2 linked regions of the Homo sapiens genome follow. The protein of the gene in region 2 interacts with the protein of the main gene of each other region in a pairwise test. Each region holds a gene or a part of one and is shown on either strand. Other genes may lie near its edges.

Region 1 (3,500 bases), on a different chromosome or scaffold from region 2:
TGGGAACTAAATCTTAATCAAAAGAGTGCATGGGGAACATGGATTCTGAACAAGAAGAATGCATGAGATAAGGAAATGTATAGTAATATTGGCCTGGGAAGGCTTGACACCCTTATCTCAGTTAAATGACCTGCCTCCATCTTTACAGTGGGGATGAAGTTGTCAAGTTCGCTAAGCAGTGTTCAGAAGATTACTGCTAATATTTGCCCCTGTGAGTTTCTTTTCTTTAGATATGTTAATACATTTAAGTTCTACAAGCCCAGGGGCCTAGCTCAGGTACTTCTGAAAAGCTCTGCTCTGAATCTTTGCTTATGATTCCATAATTCCCAGAAAATAAATTTTGCTACTTAGATGATCTTGAGCAAAAGAGTACATAACACCATATTAAACAGATAGCCTGAAAAATTATGTTTATACTCTAACTGCAACTATATAAAATATATATAATGTTAACAAAAACTGAAGGAAAATGTACAAATATAAAAAATACTTTGAGTGTGGAGAAACAATAAATGATTTTTTTCTATAAACTTCTTCAGAATAAATAAATATAAACATTTTAATAAAACTTAACATTACAATTTTAAGCAAAATTGACCCCATCTGGTCATATGATCAAAGAACTAGTAAATTATTGGTAAGGTATTTCGGTGTTTCCTCTGATGAATAGTGGTTTATGGGTGTGGATATGAAACAAAATATAAATGCACTTAAAATTACTTCAATGTATATAACAGGCTACTAGGCAGAGGCATGGGAGGAACATTTACAGTCAGAGGGCAAGTTCAAACAAGACCTAAGCAGAGAAATTGTCTAATGGTTGCTCAAGTAGAAATGTTTAAGTGTGGTGATTCATGAATGGTGTACACAGAAATCAGTGCTGGTAATAGATAGCTAGAAAGTGCTGTTCACATCAAACAGTGATTACTATAAACCTCTAATTATGTGCTCTTGAGAGAGCCTTGTACCTTTCCCACTGTAATATCTAGTTCTTAAACTGGAACTCTACGACTTCAATTCAAATCTCAATGGCTTCTTAGCTGTTAAATGTAGGCTTACCCATGAATAACCGCTGACACAATCAGCTGTACCCTGCTGTATACAAGCCAACTTTGACAAGAATAATGAGTTTTCTCTTTGATTTCAATGTGTAATGATGGTTTACAAAATAAATAAATAAATAAATAAAATAAGACTGGCAGTTTGCTATAAAAATACTTGAGAGGGTACTTTGACTGAGCCAGAGTTTAACACAAATTTAAACAATATTTGTGCCCCAAGAAAACAATCATTAACCTCATCCTAATTGTAGCTCCATTCACAGTTTAGCTAAATACCTGGGCAGCTGTTTTGTGTTGAGGGTGGGACCAGAGAAGAGGCAAAGGGGAAGTCTGGAAAGAGAGAGACTGGTTTAAAAACAACAACAACAACAAAAACGCTCAGCTGTAAGTCCTGCAAAAATTGCAAAGTAATGGGCCTCTTCAATCATATTTATTAAGTCCACTGACTTAGGGGTTTTGCCCTGTTAGTAGCTAAGTTATCCACAGAGGTTATTTACATTTTGCAGCACTGAAGTCATCCACTCTGATTCACTAAATCATGCCTGCACTTGGTATGGTTTCTCCTTTGCTAGCTTACTGCAGGATCTGGAAGTGCCATTTACGGCTCAGCCCACTTGGCTTTCCATGTCCCTGACCCTTTAGTGAGCAGGCAGTGGAAGAAAGCTGCACTGCACATAAAGAACAGCTATAGCCAAGCAGAATTAGTCAAACTGTGGAAATTAGAGTGAATTTTCCCCATGTCTCAGATTGGAAGAAGGAACATATGTTAGAAATAACCAGTTACAATCAGTTTTGCCAAAATGAGAAAGTTTTAGAAAATTACACATAAAGGTGTTATTTCTCATTGAATAAGGGGTTCATATACCCCTTTCAGTGAACTAAAGACCAAAGAACCAAAGGGAAGGCCACCAAAAAGATGGACATCCTAGGTTCTTGTCAAGAGCACACTTACTGTGGTTGCATATCCCAGTCCTCAGAAAGGAGTTACCACCTTCCTTCTTGATGGATTTTCCTGCTCCCTAAATGTCTGCAAAATGATATAGGGACCTCAAGACCAAGAAGGGACAGAAGTCCTGTTCTCATAAAAACTTGTCATTTTTGTACCAGGTTTACACATTCGCTAACAATTATTTAACTTTCTCAGTGGCTTATTTCAAACATCTGGGCTTGGAGGATGGTGTTGCATTCACAAGAGAACACCAGTTTTTATCCTATATCATATAAACTGCTTTCAGAAAGTAATGTAATTTAAATAAATGCTTACAGTTAAAAAAGTTGCATTTACAATTAAAAGAGTGCCATTATTCTCCAAATGTAAAAAATGATGCTGCTAATTTATTTTATTTTATTTTTTTTTAGAGTATCAGGGGTTGTTTGGCACTGTACTACTTACATGTTTTTAATCTTTAGTTTTTCTTATACCAAATATATACTGAACAACTGCTATACCCAGGAATGTACTAGAAACTGTGGATAAAAAAATAAATACAATTTTCTCTATCTGGGATGGAAATTATGAACCTTATAAAGTGGGTAATATTAAAATTAAATCATTTGTGTCCACCAAATATGATTTTAACCCTCTCTCTATCCAAAAATAACCACTACTTAGATTGGCAGCAAATTAATGACCATAATGGTCTCATTATATTTCTATTTACTTTAGTATGGCCAACAGCAGAAAGAATTGCTCTTAGGCGTGGGTTCCCTCTACTTTAATAACAGAGATAATAAGGCTTTTAAAATACTGAGCTAAGGAATATTCCAGGCAAATCAACAGATATGGCCTCATTATCTGTATGTCAGAAAGGAGCCCATGTTACCCTCTTGTCATAGCAGTACACTTTCTCCACATTATATGAAAAATAATATTCATATAGCCCCTGAATATAACTGATATAAAAAATGGGTAAAATAAATTATTTCATGAAATTTCCATGTTTCTTAGTTGTAAGTGACCTCTGAATCTTACTGTTTCACCAGCCAAATCAGAAATATCCTTTAAGTAAAATAAAAGCAAGTATAGCCATTCATTCAATTTTTAAAAGGCTACTCCATACCAAACCAATGCAGTGTGCAAATATGGAACTTAATTAAAATACTATATATAAAATATTAACAGCTGCTATTAAAATTACATTAAACACCCTTGAGCTAGGCTAACCTAATATGAGCTCTATTTTTTTTCAATTTAATAAAGGACAGAACTTGGCTTAGTGAATGAACTTTGGTTTTTATATTGTTTGTACCAATTCACTAATCTGAAATTTTAATCACATAAAAGTACTTTACCATCACAACAGCACCAAGCATAGTAATCTGATCTTTCCACTGGATTCAAAGAAAAATCTCATGCTTCGTTTATTTTCTTTCTTAGATGCAAACAACACTTCCTTAGAACGTGTTTCTGTTCTTCCCATACAGAATTGAGCTTTGTAA
Region 2 (3,500 bases):
AGGACCTAGTGGGTACCAGGCTCCGTGCCTGGTGTTTTTCTCATCTCCCCCAAGCCTTGCCACCTCTCCAACCACACAGCCGGAGAGTGGCAGGGTCAGGATCTGGGCCCACGTCATCTATTCTGGGACCTGCCAGCTCCAAGGCACAGGGCTGTGTCCCCTCCCTAGTCCTGGGACGGCTCTGGGTACGGAGCTCTGCAGATACTCACCGTGTAGAGGATCAGGACGGAGATGAACTGGGTCAGGCTGTACAGAGCCATGTACTTGAAGACGCTGAACGAAGTGTCAAGGGAACAGCGCCCCTCCCTGGGTGGCAGGGCACGGACATTAGGGGACCCAGGTTGGCTGACCAGCCCTGCTGAGCCCTCACCCACCGGTCCCTGCCTGCCTTACCTGATGACCATGGGCACGCACTCAATACTGGCCATGCTCGAGGTGAAGGGTGAGACCACTGAGGCTTCTGCCTGGGACAGCGAGATGCCGACATCAGCCGCCTTCAGGGCCCCACAGTCATTGGCGCCGTCTCCGCACATGCCCACGCAGTACCTGAAGAGAGGTGTGGACAGGTGTGGCCTGGGGAATTACCCCACCACCCCATGGGTGGGCTGGCAGAATATGATGACAGCTGGGCCCCTAATGCCACATGGTGCCTGGTGTACAGGAGGCGCTCAGTGAATAGATGCAATTATTATTATTATTATCATTATTATTATTATTTTTTGAGACGGAGTTTCACTCTTGTTGCCCAGGCTGGAGTGTAATGGCATGATCTCAGCTCACTGCAACCTCTGCCTCCTGGGCTCAAGTGATTCTCCTGCTTCAGCCTCCCAAGTAGCTGGGATTACAGACGCCCGCCACCACGCCTGGCTAATTTTTTGTATTTTTAGTAGAGATGGGGTTTCACCATGTTGGCCAGGCTGGTCTTAAACTCCTGATCTCAGGTGATCCACCCGCCTCGGCCTCCCAAAGTGCTGGGATTACAGGCATGAGCCACCGTGCCCGGCCTATTATTTTTTGAGACAGAGTCTCCCTCTGTTGCCCAGGCTAGAGTGCAGTGGCGTGATCTCTGCTCACTACAACCTCCTCTGCTGCCCAAGTGCCCTCAGCCTCTTGAGTAGCTGGGATTACTGGTGTGCGCCACCATGCCCAACTAATTTTTGTATTTTTAGTAGAGACAGGGTTTCACCATGTTGGCCAGGCTGGTCTTGAACTCCTGACCTCAGGTGATCTGCCTGCCTCAGCCTCCCAAAGCGCTGGGATTACTGGCATGAGCCACCGCGCCTGGCCTATTACTATTTTTTGAGACGGAGTCTCGCTCTGTTGCCCAGGCTGAAGTGCAGTGGTGTGATCATGGCTCACTGCAGCCGCAGCCTCCCAGGCTCAAGCAACCCTCCTGCCTCAGCCTCTTGAGTAGCTGGGATGACCGGTGTGTCACCACACCTGGCTAATTTTTAAATTTTTAATAAGAGATGGGGTCTCACTTTGTTGCCCAGGCTGGCCTCAAACTCCTGGGCTCAAGTGATCCTCCCACCTCGGCCACTCAAAGAGGTGGGATTACAGGAATGAGCCACCGCACCCAGCCTACAATTATTATTTTTAGCATGAAAGACCTGGGAGAGCCTGCCTGCTTTTGGTGAGGAGGGGTGACAGCTCTCTGGTGCCTGAGGAGGGAGACAGGGCCCTGGGGAAGGACAGATGAACAGACGAACGGACAAGCTCAGTCTCCGCAGGCCCTTGCCCACACCCTCTGCCGAGCACTCACTGAAGCTTCTGTAGCTCGCACACCAGCTCTGTCTTCTGCTCAGGGGCCATGCGGGCAAAGACAGTGCCCTGGACCAGGACCTGGGAGCACAGGGAGATGGGGGAGGGCTGAGGCACCCACCAGGGAGAGCGAGCCGTGAGGAAGGAGACAGAGCAGGGGAGGCGCAGGGCGGCCAGGGAGCTGGGGGCGGCCCTACCTTGGGCAGCAGCTTGGGGAAGTGCTTCACAATGATACCAAAGGTGGGCCCGCTGAGGGCCAGGTGCCTGGATCGGGGGTCTGGCTCCACGGTGTAGCTTGCAGCCTGGTCAGGATCCTGGGGGCCCAGGAAGCTCAGCTTAGCTCCCCCTGCCCACCCTGGAGAGTTGGGGCCTGGGTCAGGTGACACAGGGGTGGGGTCACTGGGTGAGGTACAGCTGGAACTCTGGGTTAGCCTCACCTTAACGCCATTCACGGCTGTGGGGGACTCCATCGGCAGGAACTCGAGAGAGGCAGGCTGACCCCGCTCAGGGTGGGTGGCGTGGACGATGATCAGATGCTCCTGGGGGGCCACCATGCCACAGCCCCGGGCCACAGTCACCGCTGTCTGCAGGTTGTCCCCTGGGGGTTATGGGGCAAGGTGAGGGTCTGAGGCTATCCGGGGAGGCCATCCTCATCCTGATCCTTACAGATGGGAAAACAGGCTGGATGAAATCCGTCTGCCACCACCAGCCAAGTGAGCTGAGGCAGGTTACCAACATCCCTTTGCCTCAGTTTTCTCATCTGTAGATCCAGGCATTGAAGGGTCTTAGGAGAACCTGGAGCCGTGGGCTGGAGCTCCACATATACTCCTTTTTTTTCTTTTTTTAAGACAAGAGTCTCTCTCTGTGGCCCAGGCTGGAGTGCAGTGGCTTGATCTCGGCTCACTGCAACCTCCTTCCTCCTGGGCTCAAGCAATTCTCCTGCCTCAGCCTCTTGAGTAGCTGGGATTACAGGAGGGTGCGACCACACCAGGCTAATTTTTTTTGCATTTTTAGTAGAGATGGGGTTTCACCATGTTGGCCAGTCTGGTCTTGAACTCCTGGCCTCAGGTGATCCCCCTGCCTCGGCCTCCCGGAGTGCTGGGATTACAGGCACGAGCCATGTGCCCAGGCTACATATACTCCTTACTGCTGTGTGACTCTGCTGCCAAGTGCCCATGAATGTGTGTGCACATATGTGTGTGTGCAGGGGCGGGGAGGACAAGGACACAGACCTCTTAGCTCCTGCTGTCTCACCCTAGCTAGAATCTTTTTTTTTTTGAGACTGGGTCTCTCTCTGTTGCCCAGGCTGGAGTGAAATGGCGTGATCTCAGCTCACTGCAACCTCCACCTCCCGGGTTGAAGTGATTCTCCTGCCTCAGCCTCCCGAGTAGCTGGGATTACAGGCATCCACCACCATACCTGGCTAATTTTTTGTATTTTTAGTAGAGACGGGGTTTCACTATGTTGGCCAGGTTGGTCTCGAACTCCTGACCTCAAGTGATCCGCCCGCGTCGGCCTCCCAAAGTGCTGGGATTACAGGCGTGAGACACTGTGCCCGGCCATTTTCGTATTCTTTGTAGAGACGGAGTTTTGCCATGTTGCCCAGGTTGGTCTTGAACTCCAGGGTTCAAGACATCCTTCTCCTTTGGCCTCCCAAAGTGCTGGGATTACAGGCATGAAGTACCGTGCCCGGCCAGAATCTTTCTCTTCCTGCTCCTTGAGCTTGTCACAGCCTCTGA

What was found. The genes of interacting proteins can lie anywhere in the genome.
Region 1: the proteins of ATP13A2 (region 2) and NRXN1 interact in a two-hybrid assay, tested with the Homo sapiens proteins (one large-scale study listed by BioGRID).

Annotation. Positions count from the first base shown.
Region 1 is NC_000002.12:50,546,133-50,549,632, forward strand, and holds part of NRXN1 (neurexin-1 isoform alpha4 precursor), read right to left. Parts: intron 1-3,500.
Region 2 is NC_000001.11:16,987,929-16,991,428, forward strand, and holds part of ATP13A2 (polyamine-transporting ATPase 13A2), read right to left. Parts: intron 2,360-3,500; coding exon 2,199-2,359; intron 2,076-2,198; coding exon 1,959-2,075; intron 1,843-1,958; coding exon 1,763-1,842; intron 547-1,762; coding exon 394-546; intron 307-393; coding exon 210-306; intron 1-209. UniProt on the Homo sapiens protein: ATPase which acts as a lysosomal polyamine exporter with high affinity for spermine. Also stimulates cellular uptake of polyamines and protects against polyamine toxicity.